Homo sapiens: one gene and its partners. The protein of the gene in region 1 purifies or fractionates together with the protein of each later gene. This does not show direct contact. Each region holds a gene or a part of one and is shown in the gene's direction. Other genes may lie near its edges.

The links.
Region 2: the proteins of RNMT (region 1) and NFIC fractionate together in Homo sapiens (co-fractionation; one large-scale study listed by BioGRID). This does not show direct contact.
Region 3: the proteins of RNMT (region 1) and RXRA fractionate together in Homo sapiens (co-fractionation; one large-scale study listed by BioGRID). This does not show direct contact.
Region 4: the proteins of RNMT (region 1) and DLD fractionate together in Homo sapiens (co-fractionation; one large-scale study listed by BioGRID). This does not show direct contact.
Region 5: the proteins of RNMT (region 1) and ITGB4 fractionate together in Homo sapiens (co-fractionation; one large-scale study listed by BioGRID). This does not show direct contact.
Region 6: the proteins of RNMT (region 1) and EPS15L1 fractionate together in Homo sapiens (co-fractionation; one large-scale study listed by BioGRID). This does not show direct contact.
Region 7: the proteins of RNMT (region 1) and CLINT1 fractionate together in Homo sapiens (co-fractionation; one large-scale study listed by BioGRID). This does not show direct contact.

What each region holds. Positions count from the first base shown.
Region 1 is NC_000018.10:13,740,173-13,743,672, forward strand, and holds part of RNMT (mRNA cap guanine-N(7) methyltransferase), read left to right. Parts: coding exon 1-107; intron 108-1,337; coding exon 1,338-1,519; intron 1,520-2,315; coding exon 2,316-2,480; intron 2,481-3,500. UniProt on the Homo sapiens protein: Catalytic subunit of the mRNA-capping methyltransferase RNMT:RAMAC complex that methylates the N7 position of the added guanosine to the 5'-cap structure of mRNAs. Binds RNA containing 5'-terminal GpppC.
Region 2 is NC_000019.10:3,376,583-3,380,082, forward strand, and holds part of NFIC (nuclear factor 1 C-type), read left to right. Parts: intron 1-3,500.
Region 3 is NC_000009.12:134,406,455-134,409,954, forward strand, and holds part of RXRA (retinoic acid receptor RXR-alpha), read left to right. Parts: intron 1-105; exon of another isoform or gene 106-1,038; intron 1,039-1,694; coding exon 1,695-1,845; intron 1,846-2,485; coding exon 2,486-2,665; intron 2,666-3,500. UniProt on the Homo sapiens protein: Receptor for retinoic acid that acts as a transcription factor.
Region 4 is NC_000007.14:107,897,683-107,901,182, forward strand, and holds part of DLD (dihydrolipoyl dehydrogenase, mitochondrial isoform 1 precursor), read left to right. Parts: intron 1-3,500. UniProt on the Homo sapiens protein: Lipoamide dehydrogenase is a component of the glycine cleavage system as well as an E3 component of three alpha-ketoacid dehydrogenase complexes (pyruvate-, alpha-ketoglutarate-, and branched-chain amino acid-dehydrogenase complex).
Region 5 is NC_000017.11:75,741,959-75,745,458, forward strand, and holds part of ITGB4 (integrin beta-4 isoform 1 precursor), read left to right. Parts: intron 1-382; coding exon 383-531; intron 532-623; coding exon 624-803; intron 804-1,754; coding exon 1,755-1,903; intron 1,904-3,500. UniProt on the Homo sapiens protein: Integrin alpha-6/beta-4 is a receptor for laminin. Plays a critical structural role in the hemidesmosome of epithelial cells. Is required for the regulation of keratinocyte polarity and motility.
Region 6 is NC_000019.10:16,360,471-16,363,970, reverse strand, and holds part of EPS15L1 (epidermal growth factor receptor substrate 15-like 1), read left to right. Parts: intron 1-1,986; coding exon 1,987-2,192; coding exon of another isoform or gene 2,193-2,201; exon of another isoform or gene 2,202-2,393; intron 2,394-3,500.
Region 7 is NC_000005.10:157,810,646-157,814,145, reverse strand, and holds part of CLINT1 (clathrin interactor 1), read left to right. Parts: intron 1-918; coding exon 919-1,083; intron 1,084-3,500. UniProt on the Homo sapiens protein: Binds to membranes enriched in phosphatidylinositol 4,5-bisphosphate (PtdIns(4,5)P2). May have a role in transport via clathrin-coated vesicles from the trans-Golgi network to endosomes. Stimulates clathrin assembly.

The sequences.
Region 1 (3,500 bases):
CCGATGTTTCTGTCAAACAGTGTCAGCAGCGGTATGAGGACATGAAAAATCGTCGTGATAGTGAATATATTTTCAGTGCAGAATTTATAACTGCTGACAGCTCAAAGGTACAGTTTCTTTCTTTGGTCAATTTATTTTTTACATTTTTAGTTTGGGTAAATAATTTGTTTTAAAAATCAACTCAATTTTTACTTTTTTAAAAAAATTTACTCTTATTTTTTGAGACAGGGTCTTACTCTGTCACCTAGGCTGGAGCACAGTGGCACGATCTCAGCTTACTGCAACCTCTGCCTCCCAGGCTCAAGTGATTCTCCTGCCTCCCAGCCTCCTGAGTAGCTGGGACTACAGGCACATGCCACCACACCCAGCTAATTTTTATATATTTTGTAAAGATGGGGTTTTGCCATGTTGCCAAGGCTGGCCTCAAACTCCTGAGCCCAGGTGATCTGCCTGCCTCCCATAGTGCTGGGATTACAGGCATGAGCCATGGTGCCCGGCTACTCATTTTTTAAAATGTGTTTTGAAACTTTAAAAATCTTGGAATATGCATTTTCACTTTTGACTGGAAATTCTATTATGATAAATTCCCTTGAATGACTCACTGAATACTTGTAATTTTTTGCTTTTAATAATTTGAATTGAAATTAGCTGTTGCTTTTCGGTATGGACATCATTTATTTTCCAGTATTTTGAAATAGAACTGAACTTATACTATGTTTTGTTCACCTTGTAATTTATTAGTTTCCCAACATATCAGAGCCTGTTTGGTTTTTTCCTACCTTCCACCTGTTTCTGAATTTCTTAAAAAGAACTGCTTCAAGGGTGAAAGTCTCACCATGAACTTTTTGTTCTTCATTGACTTATTGACTCACTGAACTGTTATAGATACCTTTAATCATACACATTTTGTTTGAAATTTGAAAGTGAAAAAGATAAGTGGGAGTATACTGCCAGAAAGTTGTAATACCTTTAAAACATTTTTGCATTTTTTAAAAAATGCCAAACGCCAGATGTTTTTTAACTCAAGTTATTGTTGAATGTCATTTTATTTTAGCTGTCAAGTAAAGTGATGAAAGGATCAAGTTGAAATGTCATAATTGACTAATATATTTTAAACATGATTTCAGAATTCCTCAGTTTTTAAATACTGTGAAAGTGGGAATCAAATTATTCTGTTAAACTAGAATACATGCATGATTTCTGTGTGTCCTTTATTGTACAAGGGAAAGATTGTGAGGGAAAGGAAGAACCTTACATTCTAGAAGTTAATTTACTAAAAAGTTTTTAATCTTTGTTGTAGTTACCTCACAATCTTAACTCATTTTAATTTGTTTCAGGAACTTCTGATTGACAAATTTCGTGACCCACAAATGTGTTTTGACATCTGCAGTTGTCAGTTTGTCTGTCATTACTCATTTGAGTCTTATGAGCAGGCTGACATGATGCTGAGAAATGCGTGTGAGAGACTTAGCCCTGGGGGCTATTTTATTGGTACTACTCCCAATAGCTTTGAATTGATGTAAGTACTTCTAAATATATTGTGGTTTATAAAATATTCAGTATTAAGTAGCAAATGTTTATCAGAGGTAGATTTTATTAAAATACGCTATTTTAATCTTATAAGTGTTGAACACTTTCATAAGATATTTGAGTAGACATTCAAAATTTAAATTCAATAGACAAATTTACAGGTGAACTTTTAACAGTTCATCTTTGTGTGTAAGTTAGAGACTGAAGTTATAGTGATAGACAAACTGCAGGTCAGATACACAGGCACAGAGATGAACCAGCTGTCATGAGAGTGATACCTACTTCCAGCTTAATTTTATTGGTGTGACTGTTGGTGATCTTTTAGTATATTGCTTCTTAAAAGTAGCTCAAATCAGGAGAGTGCAGTGGCTCATGCCTATAATCCTAGCACTTTGGGAGGCCAAGGCAGGAGGATTGCTTGAGGCCAGGAGTTTGAGACCAGCCTGGACAACATAGTGAGACCTTGTCTTTACAAAAAATTTACAAATTAGCCAGCATGGTGGCACGCCCCTGTAGTCCTTGCTCAGGAGGCTGAGGCAGGAGGATCACTTGAGCCCAGGAGTTGGTGGCTGTAGTGAGCTATGATCACACCACCACACTCCAGCCTGAATGACAGATTAAGACCTTGTCACTTTAAAAAAAAAAAAAAAAGGTAGCCCAGATATAATTAAAAGGCTAATCAAGTGTGCATCATGTAGTTTTTCACATGCATAATCTGATCAAAATAAGTCTACACTAATCACAATTTTAATCTTTTTATTTTGGTTGGGGGATAACCTTGATAGAAGACGCCTTGAAGCTTCAGAAACAGAATCATTTGGAAATGAAATATATACTGTGAAATTTCAGAAGAAAGGAGATTATCCTTTATTTGGCTGCAAATATGACTTCAACTTGGAAGGTGTTGTGGATGTTCCTGAATTCTTGGTCTATTTTCCATTGCTAAATGAGTAAGAAGTCATTAATCTGTTCACTCTTTTCTTTTTGTCTTAAGGGAAAGAAAAGCGGGGAAAAGCAATATTTATTTTACTCTTTATTTTAAATGAGGGCTAAAGAAAAAGTATAATCTTGTTTTTTTGTTTTTGTGTTTTTAAAAAAAAAAAACAAAACAAGACTAGCTTCACATCTAGGGGATTATTGCCATAGGTCTCATAATAGCCTAACTTAGTTTTCTCTCATTCCTGGAATTTTTTAATCCTGTGGGTGAAAAAGGGAACCAGTTGCCTTCAGCTTGTGGCACAAAATGCCTGACACTGCAAATAGCAAAAGTTTTTTTTTTTTTTTTAGTGACTACTGGTAACTTTGATGATAAACAATGAGTCTTCATAAATCAAAGATCCGGCCGGGCGCGGTGGCTCACGCCTGTAATCCCAGCACTTTGGGAGGCCGAGACGGGCGGATCATGAGGTCAGGAGATCGAGACCATCCTGGCTGACACGGTGAAACCCCGTCTCTACTAAAAATACAAAAATTAGCTGGGCATGGTGGCGCGCGCCTGTAGTCCCAGCTACTCGGGAGGCTGAGGCAGGAGAATGGCATGAACCCGGGAGGCGGAGCTTGCAGTGAGTCGAGATCGCGCCACTGCGCTCCAGCCTGGGCGACAGAGCGAAACTCCGTCTCAAAAAAAAAATAAATAAATAAATAAATAAATAAATAAATAAATAAATAAATCAAAGATCCTCCTTTTGACAGAGATGAGTATTAAAAGTTGTTTGCATTTCACTATAACTTTGAAATTGCCTATGTCTCACAGGCAATGTTGATGATAAAATCCTGATTCAGGAATGTATTCTCCCATGTGCCTGAATTCCTAGGAGTCCTGGCAAACTGTAGACACAGGAAAAGCTGGGGGTAACTGGGCCTTACCAGGTAAGGCTTCAAGGCCTTGTGATACACCTTGGTTTCCAGAGTTTCCCCGGTGGGGAGAGTATAAAAGTCAGCTTAAATGTAGGCCATGTCATGATTGATTG
Region 2 (3,500 bases), on another chromosome or scaffold:
AATTAGCCAGACATGGTGGTTTGCACCTGTAGTCCCAGCTACTCAGGAAGCTGACGTGGGAGAATCGCTTGAGTCTGGGAGTTCAGGGCCCAAGTGACCTAAGATCGTGCCACTGCACTCCAGTGAGACGCCTGTCTTTTTTATTTATTTATTTATTTATTTTGAGACGGAGTCTCGCTCTTGTTGCCCAGGCTGGAGTGCAATGGCGCGACCTTGGCTCACTGCAACCTCTGCCTCCCGGGTTCAAGTGATTCTCCTGCCTTAGCCTCCCGAGTAGCTGGGATTACAGGCGCCTGTCACCATACCTGGCTAATTTTTTGTGTTTTTAGTAGAGATGGGGTTTCGCCATGTTGGCCAGGCTGATCTCAAACTCCTGACCTCAGATGATCCACCCACCTCGGCCTCCCAAAGTGCTGGGATTACAGGCGTGAGCCACCACACCAGGCTGAGACCCCCATCTCTTAAAAAAAAAAGTAATAAAAATCACAGTAGCCCCAGCACTTTGGGAGGCCGAGGCAGGCGGATCACGAGGTCAGGACATTGAGACCATCCTGGCTAACACAGTGAACCCCCGTCTCTACTAAAAAAAAAAATACAAAAAATTAGTTGGGCATGGTGGCGGGTGCCTGTAGTCCCAGCTATTCAGGAGGCTGAGGCAGGAGAATGGCGTGAACCCGGGAGGTAGAGTTTGCAGTGAGCTGAGATCGCATCACTGCACTCTAGCCTGGGTGACAGAGCGAGACTCTGTCTCAAAAAAAAAAAAAAAAAAAAAAAATCCAATAGCAATATAAGTTGTAATGATAACAATCATCGCATCATTAATAACAATGTAGTCCTTTGAGAGCTGGGGGGAGGAAAACAGCTTTCTGTGCTAGGAAGGGATCACCCCTGTCCGAAATGCCCAGCCCAGCCTGGTCAAGGCAGGGAGATGGAAAGGCAGTTTTGCTTCTCTTTCTCTTCTTGTTCCTTGTATTTATTCCACCTTGAGGCTGAGAAACTAGGTCCCAGATGTTTTTAATTTGTTTTATTTTATTTTTTATTTTTTTAGAGACAGGGTCTTACTCTATCCCCCAGGCTGGAGTGCAGTGGCACAATCACAGCTCACTGCAGCCTCGACCTCTGAGGCTCAAGTGATCCTCCCACCTCAGCCTCCTAAGTAGCTAGGACTACAGGTGTGCGCCACAGCAACTATGCCCAACTAATTATTTTTGTAATTTTTAGTAGAGACGGGGTTTCGACATGTTGGTCAGGCTGCTCTCAAACACTTGGGCTCAAGTGATCTCTCCACCTCGGCCTCCCAAGTAGCTGGGACTACAGACGCGCACCACAAAAATTATGCCCAGCTAATTTTTGTAATTTTCGTAAAGATAGGGTTTTGCCTGCCGGCCACAGTGGCTCACACCTGTAATCCCAGCACTTTGGGAGGCAGAGGCAGGTGGACCACCTGAGGTCAGGAGTTCAAGACCAGCCTGGCCAACATGGTGAAACCCCATCTCTACTAAAAATACAAAAATTAGCTGGGCATGATAGTGTGTGGCTGTAATAGTGTGTGCCTGTAATCCCAGCTACTCGGGAGGCTGAGGCAGGAGAATCTCTTGAACCTGGGAGGCGGAGGTTGCAGTGAGCCGAGATTGTGCCACTGCACTCCAGCCTGGGTGACAAGAGTGAAACTCTGTCTCAAAAAAAAAAAAAAAAAAAAGGAGATGGGGTTTCGCCATGTTGCCCAGGCTGGGATTGAACTGGGCTCAAGTGATCCACCCACCTCAGCCTCCCAAAGTTCTGGGATTACAGGCGTTAGCCATAGTCCCCAGCTGAGATCCCAAATGCTATGCAGACTCAGTTTCCCTTGCTGGAAAATGGGAAGAATGGGAGGGGCCTCCCCACACCCAGACAGGGAGCTGGGGGCCTCCCACTGCCCCACATTTCTCTTCAAGGGGCTGCTGTTATTTTCGTGGGGAAGTCAGATGAGTGCAGGTTCCAGTCCACCTCTGTCCCCCATGGCCGGGTTCCCCCTCAAGGCCTCAGTTTCCTCATCTGTAGCATGGGTGTTGTGACTGCCCTCAGACACCAATTTGTCATGATTTGGGAGTAGGTTGAAGTCCCAGCTCTGGCCCAGTCTCAGCGCCTTCCCAGCCCTCGGATTTTCCATCTCCAGGGTGGGTCTGCAGGGAACGGGGTGGCCCCTCTCCCCAGTTCTGAACCTTTGTGGCTGAGCGTCTGCTTCTCTGGTCTGTTTCTGTATCAGCACAGTGGGTTCATGGAAAGGGGAAAGGAGGGAGAGGACTCCACCCGGGATTTCTCCTCCCTCTGATTAATCCTGGTGCACTTGAATCTCTTATCTTTTGATGCAGAAATCCCCCCACCCTTCCAGCAGCCCTCAACCTCCAGGCGGGCCTAGTGTCTGCCTGTGGATCTCAGCCAGGCCTGTCTGTACATATGCTCTGTAGGAACAAGCTTTCGTAGTCATTTTTTGTTTTTTTGTTTTTTGTTTTCCCAAGATGGAGTCTCGCCCTGTCACCCAGGCTGGAGTACAGTGGAGTGACCTTGGCTCACTGCAACCTCCACCTCCCAGGTTCAAGCAATTCTCCTGCCTCAGCCTCCCAAGTAGCTGGGATTACAGTCATGCGCCACCACGCCTGGCTAATTTTTGTATTTTTAGTAGAGACAGAGTTTCACCATGTTAGCCAGGCTGGTCTTGAACTCCTGACTTCTTGATCTGCCCGCCTCGGTCTCCCAAAGTGCTAGGATTACAGGCATGAACCACCGCGCCCAGCCGGGTTTTTTTTTTTTGAGACGGAGTCTCACTCTGTCGCCCAGGCTGGAATGTAGTGGCGAGCTCTCGGCTCACTGCAACCTCTGCCTCCTGGGTTCTCCTGCCTCAGCCTCCTGAGTAGCCGGGACTACAGGCGTGTGCCACCATGCCCAGCTAATTTTTGTATTTTTAGTAAAGATGGGGTTTCACTATGTTGGCCAGGCTGGTGTCAAGCTCTTGACCTCAAGCGATCCACCTGCCTCAGCCTCCCAAAGTGCTGGGATTACAGGCGTGAGCCACTGCGCCCAGCCTCATTTTTCATTTTTTTTTATTTCTTTCTTTTTTTTTTTTTTTTTTTTTTTGAGTCAGGAGTCAGGGGTCTCACTACGTTGTCACCCGGGCTGGAGATCAATGGCGCAACCTTGGCTCACTGCAGCCTTGACCTCCTGGGCTCAATTGATCTTCCCACCTCAGCCTCCCAAGTAGTTGGGACTGCAGGTATGCATCACCTAGCTAAGTTTTGATTTTGTAGAAACGGGGCCTCGCTATGTCATCCAGGCTGGTCTTGAACTCCTGGGCTCAAGCAGTCCACCCACTGTGGCCTCCCAAAGTGCTGGGATTACAGGTGTGAGCCACCATGCTTGGCCGCCGACCCTAGTTTTTTTTTGTTTTGTTTTGTTTTTTGAGATGGAGTCTTGCTCTGTCGCCCAGGCTGGAGTGCAGTGGCGCAATCTCGGCTCACTGCAAG
Region 3 (3,500 bases), on another chromosome or scaffold:
ACGAGGAAACTCAGGCTCACAGTGATTAAATCATTTTCCGAATGTCACACGAGAACGTAGGAGGCAGGCAGAATCCGGAGCCAGGGATCCGCCTCTGGGGCCTCCAGTGCCTCCAAGCGAGACAGCCACTAGACCAGCGAGCCCTGGAGGGCTGGGCAGGGCCTTGTCCCCTGGTGCCTCCCGGAGCCCAGCACGGGGCAGGGCCAGCTGGGCACTTAGTTTGGACGAGCTCTGTCCCTCCAGGGGCTTCACTTTCGCCTTCTGCAGCGTGGGGGATCATGTGTGACCTTGGCCAGCCCCTGACCTCCCTGAGCCGCAGCCTCTGCATCTGGGACACCCAGGGTTTCCCATGCAGGGAGTGTCAAGTGTGGGTGCAAAGCCCAGGCACCGCACCCCTCTGCAGACGTCTGGGGCTTTCTCTTGCCCCTTCAGTTCCCTCCCTTCTCTGAGAAGCGCACCTGCTGCCTGTGGACATGAACACTGGGCATTTGGTGAGTCACACAGTGGCCACCCGCTTCTCCAGTGGGAGCTTCATGGCACCCCCACTGTGCTGAGTTGTCACGGGGGACCTCCTGGCCTCTCGCAGCCCACCTGAGTCCTGCAGGGACCAAGCATCCTTGTAAAGCCTCACAGCCCACCTGGGCAGATCGAGGAAGAACCTAGAAGCCAGAACAAGCTGGGGCTGGAAGACTCATTCCAGGCACCGAGGTCCATGTGAAAGGAGGCTTTGCGGTGGTTTCTGCTTTGCTTGCATTGAGCCTCAAACTCTTCCTGTCCCGTGAGAAGGGGGGATGGGATTTGGAGGCCTGAGGAAGGAAGGAGGGGAGCTTCCTGCGCACAAGCGGCGGCAGGGGTTTGCAGAAGTGGAGGCTGGGGGCTGCCTGGCCAAGCGCTTACCGCCCTGCGCAGCCAGGCTGGCTGGCAGGCTGCAGCGGGAAGCGCCTGTGGGTCCTCGGCGCTGACTGCAGAGCTGGGTGGAGGCAGCGGAACCAAAACTGCTGTGTCACTGCACGCTGCAGCTGTTGCCAGGGTGACCGGGTGAGTTTCCCACGCTTGCCCGGGCGGCAGCGTGCGGGCCGGCGGGTGGGGCGGAGGGGTGTGCAGAGAGGCCAGTGGTGTCGTGCCACCCGATGCCCGGGGGTGTCCACTCCCCTCTCCTGGGTCACGTGACCAGGGCCCCTGCCCTGCGGTGTTGTGGGGTGTATGTGTGGTTCTTGGGGGGGTCCCCAGCCCTCCTCCGTCCTGGGAACTGGGCTTCGGCGTCCTCATGTGTGGGTTGGGACCCCCCAGAGTGCCTGCCTCATGGAGTGTCCGGGGGCACCCAGCGGGGCTGGGCACTGCCAGGGGCTCAGTAATGAGAGGCAGCTCTCATTTAGGTGGGCAGCGGGCAGGGGGTTGCAAGCAGGGACCGCCCATGTGTTGGGGGGGGTGTTGAAGGTCCTTTTCCACAGAGGCCTGGGGTCTGCTGCGGGCGAGTCCTGAGGTTGCCACAGCCTCTGCTGGCCTTGCTGAGCAAGCACAGTGGCCCCGCTGCTCCGGAGCAGCGTGGCGGGTGGGGGGCACGGCCCTCTCTAGCCTCGGTGTCTGTGTGTGAAGTTGGGGGTACAGCTGCGCCATCCTTGCTGCAGGGCCGTGGGGGACATAGGGACAAACCTGGTGTACACCCCGCTGACTGCTGTGGTTGCCCCCCCCAGCTCAGCTCACCTATGAACCCCGTCAGCAGCAGCGAGGACATCAAGCCCCCCCTGGGCCTCAATGGCGTCCTCAAGGTCCCCGCCCACCCCTCAGGAAACATGGCTTCCTTCACCAAGCACATCTGCGCCATCTGCGGGGACCGCTCCTCAGGTACCGCTGCTGTGGGGGCCAGGGGCTGGTGGGACAGGGTTGTCAGGCCATTGCAGGGTCTGGAGGCCTCCCCAAATCACCCTCCTGTGGGCCAAGCAGGACCCAAGGCCAGGGTGCAGGGAGGCAGGTGCCTGGGCCATGCCCCACTCCCAGGGCTCCGCGAGGCCATTCCAGGGTTCTCACGTCTGTGGGACAGTGAGTGTTGGGTGGGGTGGGGCACAGGGCAGCCTGAGGCTTCCGGAGAGGAGGTGGCTGCTGATGGCAAGGTCAGCATGGGGGCAGCCAGTGCTGCGCCTCCTCCCTTGGCTGGGTCTGGGCAAGGGGCCCGTGTTGTGCCACTGACCCCCAACGGCCTGAGAGGGAAGAACGGGCTGCACAGTGCAGACACAGAGCAGGTGACTTGCCTGGGGCCCTGGTCCCTGGTGGGCTGGGATTTGTCCCTGCCCCACTCCTAAGCTGTCCTCGGAGGAGCAGAGAGAGTGAGGCTGGGGCCCAGTCTGAGCCCAGGCAGGGGTCTGGAGACCAGCAGGTCCCTTTCTGAGGCCTGGCCCGCCAGCTGGTAGTGGCGGCGTTGGATGGGGGGTGGGCTCCCTGCCGGGGCGGTGGGTGCTCCCCAGCCCTGCTCTGCCCTGTCCCGCAGGCAAGCACTATGGAGTGTACAGCTGCGAGGGGTGCAAGGGCTTCTTCAAGCGGACGGTGCGCAAGGACCTGACCTACACCTGCCGCGACAACAAGGACTGCCTGATTGACAAGCGGCAGCGGAACCGGTGCCAGTACTGCCGCTACCAGAAGTGCCTGGCCATGGGCATGAAGCGGGAAGGTAGGCCACGGCGTCGGGTGGGGGCGCGGGCAGGTGTTGGACAAACAGTGGGGCCCGGGCTTGTGCGTGGACACCCGAGATGGACAACAGGGAGTGAGTGGCCTGGACAGAAGCATGGCAAGGCCAAGGCAGGAGTGGGGGCGGGGCCCAGCGCGTGGGCACACGTGCGGCCCAGAGCGTGGGCACACATGGGTCCTGGGCGGCATGTTCTGGCTGGCGTTGGCTGTCCGGTGAGGGGATGGTCAAGGAGACCCTCAGGTGGCACTGCTTAGGTTGGAGAGGTGGAGCGGGGGCATCTTCTGAGCTGTTGGATGCCAGGGGTGGTCCCGGGCCAGCTTCCTCCCGAGGCCAACTCTGTGGCACCCCGCAGGGCCGCCGGATGGCCCCCAGGCTCTTGGAGCAGTTCCTCCTTTCCTTTTGTTTTTGTGCTCGTCTTATTAACAAATCTGTGTCGGGGCGGTTTGCAGGGAAGTCCCTCCCCCGATGTCACCAAAATTGTCAAGTCATCCAGCCAGACCTGGGTCGGAGTCCCGGGCCCCACAGGCACTGTGACTTCCCAGTCCTGGCTGGCTGTAGTCCTCAGTTTCCCCATCTGTCACATCCCCTTTCCCTCTCAGGTTTGGCGATTCCTGGCCTCTTAGTGGGTCCCTGGGTCATGGTTTGCACACACGTTTGGGGGTGTGCCTCAGTTCCTCCCATCGGGTCCCGTGCCCTGGGCCTTGTGGAGGTGGGAGGTGCTGTCTGGGGTGAAGATCTGTTGGTCTGTCCCTGTCCCCCCGCTCTGCAGGACACCCTTCCTCTGTCCTCTGCTGTGCTGCTCCTGAGGCCCAACACC
Region 4 (3,500 bases), on another chromosome or scaffold:
ATTCTCATGCCTCAGCCTCCTGAGTAGCTGGGACTACAGGCACGCACCACTATGCCCAGCTAATTTTTGTATTTTTAGTAGAGATAGGGTTTCACCATGTTGGCCTGGCTGGTCTTGAACTCCTGACCTCAAGTGATCCACCCGCATTGGCCTCCCAAAGTGCTGGGATTACACAGACTGACTTCTTGAGATACATCTTGTAATTATATTGATGATTACAATTGATTTGTAACACAATACCTTTATTTCAGTGGTAGCCTGGATAACCAGGTGCCTTATTTTCCTTATAATGATCTAATATGTAACACTTGTAGGAATTTGTAGAGTACTTTTCTTGACTTTTTTCTTTGAGTTAATTTTAATAACATTAATTGCCTTGTTTAAGTCAGTCACCTCTTATTGTACTCCAGTATTTTTAAAGTATCAACCTGATACTTTAAACCTGGTAGGAGCACACATTTCAGAATCTAAAGGACCTTGTTTGAATCACTTCACTGAAACACAGATTGCTATTCACCTGTCATTTGCCACTTTTCCATCAGGTTTGCCTTAAATAAATGTATTTCATTTAACTACTTTTCTGTATCCTTTTTTTTTTTTTTTTTTTTTTTTGAGACAGAGTTTAGCTCTTGTTGCCCAGGCTGGAGTAGTTCAGTGACACGATTTCAGTTCACTGCGACGTCCCCCTCCTGGGTTCAAGCGATTCTCCTGCCTCAGCCTCCCGAGTAGCTGGGGTTACAGGTGCTTGCCACCACGCCTGGCAATATTTTGTATTTTTAGTAGAGACAGGGTTTCACCATGTTAGTCAGGCTGGTCTCAAACTCCTGACCTCAGGTGATCCACCTGCCTCGGCCTCCCAAAGTGCTGGAATTACAGGTGGGAGCCACCACACCTGGCCTGTATCCTGATTTTTTAACTTTTTTTTTGAGACAGAGTCTTGCACTGTCGCCCAGGCTGGAGTGCAGTGGCGTGATCTCGGCTCACTGCAAGCTCTGCCTCCTGGGTTCACGCCATTCTCCTGCCTCAGCCTCCCCAGCAGCTGGGACTACAGGTGCCTGCCACCACGCCCGGCTAATTTTTTTTGTATTTTTAGTAGAGACGGGGTTTGGTCTTGATCTCCTGACCTCGTGATCCGCCTGCCTCGGCCTCCCAAAGTGCTGAGGATTACAGGTGTGAGCCACCACACCCGGCCCTGATTTTTTAACTTTATGTATGGGACTCAACCTGTGAAATTATTCTTGACAAGGAGAGGGTGAGTCAGAATCATGTGTTATCAGCTTTCATTTATATGCATCCTTTGGTACAGGTGAGAGGTAGATGATTTGTTTTTCTGACATTTTATTATGAAAAATTATAAGCATTTAGAAAATTATAAGAATTTTACATTGAACACCCATAGTTTTCTTCCATTAACATTTTCTGTGCTTACAGTACCACATATGTGCTCATTCGTTTATCCATCAGTGCAGACGTGTGTATACTTCCCCTAAATACTGGTTTGTTTTTGAAAGTTTGTTCCTGGCTTATACCCTCCTGTATTCTCAGTTGACAGATCTTTACATAAAGAGTCTGCTTTTTTCTCATTTTTGTGCATCTTAGCACTTTAGTGGTATTGTAATGGAATATTACATCTAGTATGTACAGTGAGAGAGGAGCTCTTGAATTTTTGGTATTTTCTGAAGTTTAAAAAAAAACACCTAAGATTACATAGTGAATAGGGAAGTAAAACCCAAGGTTTTTGGCTATTATCTTTTATCTCTTGTTTACTTCTCCTGACCTTACTAAAACAAGTTCTTTTCCAAACCAAATTTATTTATCATTTTAGTACCATGGACCTACTATAAGAATTGTTACATATCAGTGATTAAAAGTATATGCTCAAAAATACATATACTTAAAATCTAAAATATTTAATTCAGTTTTATTGTCATTAAAAGGGTTTTTGGAGAATTATAGCAGTAATATATGTTATAAATATATATGCTCATGTAAGAGTGAGAAAAGAATATAAAATATGGCAAAAATTGAATTTTATAAAAACTTTCCTAGAAGAAGGATTGGGAGGACCTATAAACAGTTCTCTCTGGGCTGTATGGCAATGTGGATGGGTTGTTTTTTTTTTAATTTTGCTTTAGTGTATTTAAATTTATTCAGTAAACCTAAATTTTTAATCAGAAAAGACATTAAAAATTCAGCAAAGAAACCTGTTTTGTAGCTTGTATTTACATTACTCTGAAATTAAAAATTAGAACCCATTTAAGGGATGTTGTGTAGATCGTCATTTGGTTCAAGATTTGAAAATAAAAATACATTTTATTAGATACTTAATTCTGAACCGAAATCAGTGAACCAAGCAGGGTGGCTAAAAAGCACAGATGGATCAGTAAAAATTGAAGCAATTTTTCATGTATTGAAATGACTATACATATTTTTTCATGTATTATCTCAATTATCATCTGCTATAACCAAAGAGAATCTAGTATTTTCATTTATTCAACAGGAGGGATTCTTAGATTTTGTGGATAATTGGGCTGAGTAACTTAGTTATCCACCAACACAGAGGTTCTGTGATTCTGTTCAGGCCAGCAAAGGTTTTTTGAATGATCCTACTCTAGGGATGTGTGTTTTTGGGGAGAGGGGGTGATGCAAATTAAAATAGTCTTCTTTGTAGGTCAGAATATAGCTACTATGTATAGAATACTTATTATGTATGCTATAGGTACTATGCTAAATTATTTACATACATTATTTTATTCTGTTATCACCCTATGAAGTAGGTTTTTTTTGTGGTCTTTCTTTTGCCAGGTATGGAAACAAAGATGAAGCAGGTTAAATTACTCACCTAAGGTCACATAGGTAGTGATTATAAAGCTTGATTATTGCTCTCTGGAATTTTAGTTTATGATGGTTAAAACTGAGGAATGGAATAGTATTGAATAATGGAAAGACCACCGGAAGTAGAGTCAAAAAGCTTAGTTTGTCTCTGCAACTCACTTGCTGGTTAACCTTAGACAAGTTAATTGACCTCTCTGAACTTCTTGTTTATTCTGTGAAATGTCTTATTTATGACATCTTTATCTTCCTCATAGGAAATTCTGAGACTCAAACATGATAATATATGTGAATATGTGTTATGAATTGCTAAATGCTAGACTAGTTGGGGTTGTCAGGACAGTGGAAGGGGAAGAAAAGGGAGACTGTTTCCTAACTCTTAACAGTCACTGTTACTTTATTTGAAGTTGGATTGAGAAGAATGGGAGTAATTGGACTTACTTGCACATTTGTATTACAATTGTTAAACTCCTAAGGATACTGATCAAAATTAATTTTCAATTTTTTATCTTTATTTGAAAAATGGCCACAATAGTTAATTGAATATTCTGGTTAGCCTATTATCTTAAGGTATGTAAAAATTATCAATATGCAAGTACAAAACATATTTGTTAAATATTACATAGAAGCTGTTTTTTCCCTCATATTTCAGAAGTTAAGGACCTGAA
Region 5 (3,500 bases), on another chromosome or scaffold:
AAGCTGAGGCTCAAAAGGGTTAAGTGACTTGCCCAAGGTTACCCAGCTATCGAGAACTAGAACCAGGGCTAGGGCCGCGGCAGCCTGGCCTGAGCACACACACCCTTAGCATCTTTGCTGTCCAGCCCTTGATGAGGTGGGCAGAGAAGCCCATTTCACAGAGGAGGACGCTGAGGACAGGGAGGCGCCATGGCTGGGCTGAGGCTGCAGGGTAAAGGGTATGGGGCTGGCATAGGCCTGGAGCACTGCCTGCCTCTGAAGACCCTGCACTTCTTGCTGTCTTACATCCTGGCCCCTGAAGGGGAGAAGACAGGCAGGAGGGACAGGGCAGCAGGTGCCAGCCTGACCCCTCCGCTGCCTGAACCTTCCACCCTCGACCCAGGCAAGACCACACCATTGTGGACACAGTGCTGATGGCGCCCCGCTCGGCCAAGCCGGCCCTGCTGAAGCTTACAGAGAAGCAGGTGGAACAGAGGGCCTTCCACGACCTCAAGGTGGCCCCCGGCTACTACACCCTCACTGCAGACCAGGGTAGGAGGGCGGGTCCGCTGTGCCACTGCCTCGCACCTCCCGCCTGTGTGGCCCTGTGACCCACCTCTGACCACCTCCGAACCCCCACCCAGACGCCCGGGGCATGGTGGAGTTCCAGGAGGGCGTGGAGCTGGTGGACGTACGGGTGCCCCTCTTTATCCGGCCTGAGGATGACGACGAGAAGCAGCTGCTGGTGGAGGCCATCGACGTGCCCGCAGGCACTGCCACCCTCGGCCGCCGCCTGGTAAACATCACCATCATCAAGGAGCAAGGTGGGTCTGGGTGGGGAGAGTGGGGAAGGCAGACGGGGGCTCGGGGGCACTGGTTCCTCCTGCTTAAGTGGAATTGCGACCTGGCCACGTGGCCTGGGCTAGTCACTTAACCTCTGCAAGCCTTGGTTTCTCCATCTGTAAAATGGGTAAGGGCTCTTTTACGGAATGCGTGGCTGTTCACCTCGCCACAGTGCCTGCCTGGTGGTGAGCGCTCAGTAAATGGAAGCTTCTGTTGCATCCTCATAAGGGCCAGCCCCTTGCTCCTCTCTATCTAGAAAAAGGGTTGGCCAAGGCATCACACCGTGGACATCTGACCCCTCCTCCCACCTGTGCCGGAAGCCACAGGCCTCAGGCCTGTTCCTGCTCTCCTCCAGCCCTGGGGCTGAAGGCTCCATCTCTGGTCCTGCCCGTGACTGGCCTCCCTCCTCTGCCTGGCCCTTCCAGGATGTCTGCTGGACACTTTGTTCCAGAACCACTTTTTTTTTTCTTGGGACAGAGTCTTGCTCTGCCACCCAGGCTGGAGTGCAATGGCACCATCTTGGCTCACTGCAACCGCTGCCTCCCAGGTTGAAGTGATTCTCCTGCCTCAGCCTCCCGAGTAGCTGGGATTACAGGCACTCGCCACCACGCCCAGCTAATTTTTCTATCTTTAGTAGAGATGGGGTTTCGCCATGTTGGCCAGGCTGGTCTCGAACTCCTGACCTCAGGTGATCCACCTGCCTCAGCCTCCCAAAGTGCTGGGATTACAGGCACAAGCCACTGCGCCCGGCCCCTCATCTTTTTCTGGAAGGATTTTCCGTTTCGCTCCTGTGCCCTTCCCAGAGGGCAATGCATAGAGGGAACCAAGCGGACTCCTGGATTCTGGGCTGGGCTGGGCAGGGTCACAGGAGAGCAGGAGGTGGGAAGGGACTGGGCCCAGCACACTCTGACAAATGCCCGGGCTCCTTGCAGCCAGAGACGTGGTGTCCTTTGAGCAGCCTGAGTTCTCGGTCAGCCGCGGGGACCAGGTGGCCCGCATCCCTGTCATCCGGCGTGTCCTGGACGGCGGGAAGTCCCAGGTCTCCTACCGCACACAGGATGGCACCGCGCAGGGCAACCGGGTGAGGCTGCGCCACAGGGTCGAGGGTGCAGCCCGGGGGGCTGCGTGGGCACCGCATTGGGTTCCCAAGACAAAGCAGCACATGGCAGCTGCTTGAGTCCCTGGATACTGGCCGTGCCCCTGGCTGGCCTCCCAAGGACACGTCCACCTGCTCCTGCCACCCTGTGGCAGGGGAGTCTCACCTGCCCAGGGTGCCAGTGACACGCTGGATGAGGCTCCATTGCTGCCAGGGACTCAGGCCAAGAGGGCTCGCTCTTTTTTTTTTTTTTTTTTTTTTGAGACAGAGTTTCGCTCTTGTTGCCCAGGCTGGAGTGCAATGGCACAATCTCAGCTCACCGCAACCTCCACCTCTCGGGTTCAAGCGATTCTGCTGCCTCAGCCTCCCTAGTAGCTGGGATTACAGGCATGTGCCACCACGCATGTCTAATTTTGTGTTTTTAGTAGAGACGGGGTTTCTCCATGTTGGTCAGGCTGGTCTGGAACTCCCGACCTCAGGTGATCCGCCCGCCTTGGCCTCCCAAAGTGCTGGGATTACAGGCGTGAGCCACCGCGCCCGGCCCAAGAGGGCTCTTTCTTCCTTCATGGGCCAGGGACCTGCCCAGACCATTCCTGTCCCCTCCTACAACTCAGGATCCACAGGGTAGCCAAACCTCTTGGAGATAAACTCCCCCTATATGCCCCAGTCCAGGGGGCTTTGGGTTTCTTGAGCTGGGATCGAAGACCCCATGTCCCCAGGCCAGACTCCCCAAGGGCTGTCACAATTTGCCAAGCAGCAGGAGCAACCCTTCAAGGCAGGGAGTGCCATGGCTGGACCAGCATCACCTTCACTGCTGAGCCCCAGTGCTGGGGTACAGCCAAATCAGGTGGCACACAGGCTGGACTGGGTTTACAGGCTTCATAGTTTTGTTTCTTTTGTTTTGTGTGGGGATTTTTTGCTTCTTAATTTTTGGGGGAGACAGGGTCTTGCTATGTTGCCCAAGCTGGTCTTGAACTCCTGACCTCAAGTGATCCACCCACCTCGGCCTCCCAAAGTGCTGGGATTACAGGAGTGAGCTACCACGCCCGGCCTAGTTTTTGTATTTTTAGAAGAGATGGGGTTTTGCCATGTTGGCCAGGCTGGTCTTAAACTCCTGATCTCAAGTGATCCGCCCACCTCGGCTTCCCAAAGTGCAGGGATTACAGGTGTAAGCCAGTGCACCTGGCCTTTCTAGTTTTTAAATGTTGGCAACAAATCCATAATTAAAAACAAAGGCGGGGCATGGTGGCTCACACCTGTAATCCCAGCACTTTGGGAGGCTAAGGTGGGAGAATCACTTAAACCCAGGAGTTCAAGACCAGCCTAGGCAACGTGGTGAGACCATGTCTATACATATAATTTAAACATTAGCTGGGCATGGTAGTGCATACTTGTGGACCCAGCTACTTGGAAGGCTGAGGCAGGAAGATCACTTGAGGCCAGGAGGTTGAGGCTACAGTGAGCCATGTTCATGCCACTGTACTTCAGCCTAGGCAACAGAGTAAGACCCTGTCTAAAAAAATAATAATAATTAATTTTTTAAAAATCAAACAAAAAAACAAAGAAACAAAACCTGGCTCAG
Region 6 (3,500 bases), on another chromosome or scaffold:
GAGGCGGACAGGCAGGCCGCAAGGGTGGGCTGCAGGGGAGTTTGTCTCCGAGTCCTTCTGTGCAAACCGTGGGAAGGAAGACTGTTTTTCCTTGAATATGCAAAAAGAAAGCAGCAGTCCTTATGCTGGCCCAGAACTGCCGGTTGAGAGAAAAGTGAATTTCCATTTCCAGAAGTAGGGCTACAGGCAAGGGGGGGCTACGGGCCAGGTTCTCACTGGCCTATGCTGGGCACGGCGGTGCAGGACACTGAGTGGGAGGAGACTCCTGGACCCCAGGAATGTCACCTTGTTTGGCGCCCTCCTTCTCATTTCCACTTCACAGATAAGGAAACGGAGGCCAGCTGGGAGGAGGCACTTTCCCTTGCCGAGGCCCAGAGCTAAAGGTGGCAGATGGGGGCTGTAGCCCCGGAGCCCACAAGGACACCTGGGGCCTCAAAAATGAGGCCTGGGATGGCTGATCTGCTGGGGGAACAGAGGGAAAGGCTTTAGATCTGGGCATGGAGAGGGACCGAGGCTGGCCTGTGTGGGCTCGTTCTACCGGATGAGGAAGGCAGGTGTCCCAGGCTCAGGTGGTGGGCGGGGCAGGTGTGGCTGGGAGCCAGGGTGCTCTCTGGAGGTGCAGCCAGAGATCCAAGGTCAACCCTGGAGGGACAGGCAGTTCCTGGTTTTTTCTAAACATTAGCTTCGAAACTTCCAGAGTTAACACGCCGGAATCGTGTTGCATATTATTGAGCTTCCAGTCTGGGGTGCTGCGTGGACCACGTTGAATGCCCAGGGACTCCGTTGGGCAGATAGAGGGGTGTCAGGAGCATGGAGTCAGCCCGGCTGGCCTGCAAACTGCAGATGCTGGAAGGCCCGTCAGGTGGGACCTCCCGTCACCAAGCAGATCTTAACAGGCCTCTGCTTCTTGGTGGAATGTTCTGGTACATTGGCAGGATGCACTGGGAAAAGCTACCATCCTCAGGCCATGTCCCCCACACAGTGTCATTTTCCTCCATTTCTGAACACTTCTCTCTCACCTCCCTGTCAAGATATACCTTGCTGGGACCGGGCATCCTGGAGTTCCCTGCTTGGCAGAAGCCCAGAAAGGCCCAGATAAACGCTGCCCCTTGGAGCCACCAACACCAGAGGGACAGAAGTGGGGGCTAAAAAAGAACTTAAGGCCAGGTGCAGTGGCTCATGCCTGTAATCCCAGCACTTTGGGAGGCTGAGGCGGGCAGATGACTTGAGGGCAGGAGTTTGAGGCTAGCCTGGGCAACATGGCAAAATCCCATCTCTACTAAAAATACAAAAATTAGCCACGCATGGTGGCTCATGCCTGTAGGAGGCTGAGGTGGGAGGATCGCTTGAGCCCTGGAGGCCAAGGCCGCAATAAGCCATGATTGCACCACTGCATTTCAGCCCAGGTGACAGAGCAAGACTCTGTCTCTGAAAAAAAAAAAAAAAAAAAAAAAAAAAAGAACTTAAACCTCAGCATGGCAGAGCTGTGTGCAGACCCTTATAACTAACACACCGAATAACCATACCACGTTGTGAAACTAATTCCTCCTTTTCATTTGCAAGTAACTCTCCCCTCTGCCTTTTTTTTTTTTTACTGTTAGAAGCTTGCAGTGTATTTTTCTGCTCAGCCATGATTTTTTAAATTAGTATGTTAATAAATGTGTTGCCATGCTAAAATGAATCTGTTTGAAACGTACCTGCATGCAAACTATTCTAGGACAACTCAAGTTTTAGCTGCTCTGTGTGCGTTGTGTATGGGAGTCATCTGAAGTGTTTTTCCTGTGTTGTTCACAACCCGTTAAGCCCCTGGGATAAAGCTGATTAAAACTGGGATTCCCCAGGGTACCCCCGTCCAGCCTGTTAGCCAAGTTACAAGCTTTTCTCAGAGAAGCGCCCCGGGCTTGTGCCCACCAGCATTCTGCTCTGTCCGGGTGAGTAACTCATATTTCTTTCTTTCTCCTTTTTTTTTTCTCCTAAACTTTCCAGGTAAAAGTACACCTGTAAGCCAGCTTGGTTCCGCAGACTTTCCCGAGGCCCCCGATCCATTCCAGCCACTCGGGGCTGACAGCGGCGACCCGTTCCAAAGTAAAAAGGGGTTTGGGGACCCGTTTAGTGGAAAAGACCCATTTGTCCCCTCCTCTGCAGCTAAACCTTCTAAGGCCTCTGCCTCGGGCTTTGCAGACTTCACCTCTGTAAGTTGAGTCCTCCGCCTCCGGGCCACCCCACTCCCTTCCGCTTGCAGCTTCCCTGGGATTTTTGTCTCCTTTTAAAGGCAAACCTCCCAGCTTCTTTAGCCTCTTGGTACCTCACACTCTCTGTCCCTCGCGTTATTTATTCTACACTGCCACTTCTGTAAGAAAAACAGTTTCTCAATAAAAAAAAAAAGAGCCGCAGTTTGGATGCTCTATCATAAGGGCACGTTTTCTTCCAGCAGGGAGGCGGGACCTATCTGTCCTTCACGGTAGATTCATTGTATTATTTCTGACGCACCGAGGCTGTTGTGTTCACTGGTTTTTGGAAGCCAAGATGTCAAACACTTCCGAAGTATGAAAAGAAGATTGCGAAAGTTACATTAGGGTTCTGCTGTCCCCAAAAAGCCCTTTGTGCACAAGTTCTCACAGTCCCGCCCCATGCATTTTGTGCCACAAGTGCAAATTGAAGGACTTCAGGCAGATCGCGCCAGGGAAGAGCAATTTGAAGTTTTTTTTTTTTAAAGCTTTTAAATTTCAGTTACCAGCTCCAATGAAAAAAGAAATCCAGTCTAGAACAGCCACTCTGAAAGCCAAAACAAAAAGAGCTCCAAAAAACTGTTGAGCAAAGTTAAGTGCCTTTTCGGAAGCAAATCTCGGGATTTCGAAAGCCTGGCTTTGTTTTTCTCTGTGTGAAAAAATATTCCAGATTGTAACATGCCGTCGCTTCAAGGAGTTTTTAGCAGCTTCCTTGATACATGAAAATCTTGTTCTCTGAAAGCTTCAGGTGTTGTCTTCCCAGAATTGGTTTCACTATGTGTGATGCCCTCGCTTTCTTCCTTTGGGCTTGTTAGTTCCTTCATCATTAGGTGTGAGATGTGTTATTTATAGATGCTTCGACTCCTGGGATGGCTCTTTGAACACAGCCCTGCCATGTCAATGCACAGAAAGCACCCGATTTGTTTCTGAGCCGTCTTGATAATCTCTACCGTGCACAGCTATCCTATGGCTTATTTGTCAATTTATTTATTTTAGTGACAGGGTCTCGCTGTGTTGCCCAGCCTGGTCTGCATTGGCGCGATCAGAGCTCACTTGTAACCTCGAATTCCTGGGCTCAAGCGATCCTCCTGTCTTGGCCTCCTGAGTAGCTGGGACGACAGGCGTGCAACACCACGCAAGGCTAATGTTTAATTTTTTTTTTTTGTAGAGGTAGGGTCTTGCTGTGTTGCCTGGGCTGGTCTGGAACTCCTGGCCTCAAGCGATCCTCCCACCTTGAAGTACTGGGGTTACACGTGACTGGCCCATGTGGCT
Region 7 (3,500 bases), on another chromosome or scaffold:
AGTTGGAGTTGTCAGTCACCTGAACCAGCTTAGAAGCTTCTCTGCTCTAATTAGAATGTGACTGTTGCTGGTTGTGTGACGAGTGCAGAATCCAAGACGTGGGGCCCTAGAGTATTAATTAGTGAAGACAAGAACTTGCAGAAAAGACTGGCTAATAACAACAGAACCAACACAACATGAGTGTTCGGGTTTATATTAAAATATGCACTGGAGACTGGTCCCCTGTGGTGTCCATAAAGGAATAGCTTTAATCATATGGGAAGAAAAGGTTAGAGCTCCAAAACACACACATCTGTTTGAAGCTGGGGTTTTTTTCCCTCCCACCAAATAATATTTACTGTGCAAAGGCAGCAAGGCCACAGTGTGTTTTGAATGTGAAAGAGGCTAGAAAATGAAGCACATTTCATTTTGTAGCGTACCCCACTTGTAAGCACTTTAAAAATTCAGTTTTTGAGCTATGCTAAAACCTCATAATTAGTGTTCCAGACGTGTACTGGGGAAACCAAGACATTTGTGTGCTTTTCAGTTATTAACATGCTAAAGTGGTTCTTCTTTTGATTTGTTTTCTTAAAATATGATAGAAAAACACAATAGCACTTATGGATATGTCTATTTTGTGTGGTCATCATCAGTAATCCTTTTTAGGTCAATCTTTAATTGACCTTGCATAGTACCATTATCTGTGGTCCTTTTTAGTTCATCTTTACATGCTCTTATAAGCCAAAATTCCATTTTAGAACTTAGAATTTGCTGAAGAGGAAATGACAAAGTTAAATAGCACAACTTGCCCCTTTCTATTGTTTTTTAAATATTGAAGTTTCTTATGTTGAAGTTTTTGTGTCTTTTTTTTAATCTTAAAGAGCTTGATACATATTAAGTGAATTCTTAGGTTTTGCTTATCTCTTACCATCCTCATAGATGAGCATGGTAAGGATCAAGGTATAAATATTCGACAGAAGGTGAAGGAATTGGTTGAATTTGCCCAGGATGACGACAGGCTTCGTGAAGAGCGAAAGAAAGCAAAGAAGAACAAAGACAAGTATGTTGGGGTTTCCTCAGACAGTGTTGGAGGATTCAGATACAGTGAGTATCAAAGACAAGCTGACACCTAAGCATCAGCTTAGCTTCTTGAGTATATTTTAAGAATCAGTGAAATACCAAAGACCAAAATGCTAATTTTCTTTTCTAGGAATACATAGAATACTAAAATACACGCAGTACTAATCTTGACTTCTACTATCACATGAATCTTCCTATTTTTAACTTGTGGGTTCGGCAATAGGATTTTAACCATTAATGGCTAATTAAATGACTGCATATTTTGAGGTGTCATACAGAGATTAAAACAGATATATGCCCTTCCCTCTTAGGATTGCCATTTTAAAAAGAAGGGGGAAGAAAGTTTCTATAACTCAGAGTTTAGAGTATAAAAATAAAAAGTTTGATCAGGAGATCCATCTTTCTAATTTGAAACCAATTTAGCTGTATTTTTGGCCCAAACCAGATAAGCTTCCTGACAGTCATTCCAGCCTCAGTCTCTCTTTCTTTATTTAAGCATTGCATACTTTGACATATAAAAGATGACTGACGATACTCGCAGTTTTTCATCTAGGCCTATTGTTTTGTTTATTCTTCCCAGTACACTTAAGAGCAGCTAGAACATTCATCTTTCATGTTTATTTTTAATATAATAATATAGTTTCTCTAAAATAGGGCATAGGTGCTTGAAGCAGATACACAAAATAGGAACTGTCTTTCACGGCATGTCCCTTTGGACTTGTTCTGTCTTCTGTGAGCTCTGACAATCTCTTGCTCATTTTGTGTATGTGCAGACTGGCCAGTGCTGTGTATCTTAGCAGCTGTTCACTGAGGCTCTCCAGCTCCCCCCACCCATATATGTTTATATTTGGATTATATTGAGCTCTCATATCTCCTTCAATGGAACCATGTAAAAATCTTAACATATAAAATATCCTTACTCATTTATTCCTCTGCTTTCCCACTCTCAAAGAAAAAACACTGCGTTTAGTTAGCTGTTTAAGGATGTTTCTAACAGCAGAAAAATTCCCTTTTTTATATTGAAGCATCAAATACAAGTTAGTTTTTTCTTTTTCTTTTTTTTAAATAGGGCTAACTCATAGGCAGTGCAACCAGAGTCGGCCACAAGTTAGTTTTTGAATTGGGCAAAAATATTTCTCCTAAAGCATATAAATAATGTTTTGAAGTTTCTATTTGGGGAAGTCCAAAGTTTTTGGATTATTTACCCAAGTAGTAACTTTATTCTTCAGGTTTTTCAAAGTAGTTGTAGCAACTTAATGTGTTTTTAATAGAAATTGCTATTTGAAACTTATTTCCACACTATTCTTGCTTGTATCTTTCTTTTTGCCAGCATGATATATAATTATATCAGCTAAACTTAGAAAATTGAATACGTTTTCAAACTCAGTCACAATGCACTAACTGCAGCATCTGTATTAAAGATAGAGTTGGATATCCTGTGTGTTTGCATCACATCCTTTTGCTAAGTTATTGTTCATGGTTTATGTTATTCAGACTTAACTAATCACTCTTAGCAGTTTTGTGTTTTTTCTTTTTCTTTTCTTTTTTTTTTTTTTTGAGGATTCTTGCTCTGTCATCCAGGCTGGAGTGCAGTGTTACCATCTCAGCTCACTGCAACCTCCGCCTCCCGGGTTCAAGTGATTCTCCTGCCTCATCCTCCCAAGAAGCTGGGACCACAGGCGTGAGCCACCATGCCTCGCCAATTTTTGTATTTTTAGGGTTTCGCCATGTTGGCCAGGCTGGTCTTGAACTCCTGACCTCAAGTGATCCAGCCACCTTGGCCTCCCAAAGTGCTGGGATTACAGGCATGAGCCACCGCACCCGGCCAGTTTTGTGTTTTTTCATTCTGACATTAGATAATGTCTTGCCAATATCCAGTATCTTTAGCAGTAATTCAGTATGATGTTCACCATGCCATGCTAATCAGTTTGGTTTTCATCCACTTCCATTTTTCGTGTAAATTTGTTTCTTTCCGAAGTCTGGTTCATCACACTGTTGTTGAAATGTACATACACATTGTTGGAAAATCACTTTTTTTAAAAAAACCATCCTGGTTTAAATTTTGTCTAGAAAACTTCATTTTGTCATGTTTTCTTTAAGTTGATGGTCATTTCCAGATTCAGTAAATATGTTAAAATCCTTAAACATGTAACAGAAAATTTTAGCCTTGCAATTTTAGGAGGCAATTCAGCAAAATCGTTTTGTTCAATCTCCAAAGGCTATGTATCCTTTTAGATCCTGTAAACAAAAGTTCAAAACAAAAGCTCCATTAGCCACTTTTTAGTTATTTTGTTGTTTCTCATTGTCCTTTTCATTTTCTTCCAACCTGCCTTAATTTTTAATGTTTTCTTTTTTAAAAATACCTCACGTGCTCTCTGTACCTTCTACTGTTGCTTCTTAAGTTGGATTTGGACATGGAAATGGAAGGGTTTCATTTTGTG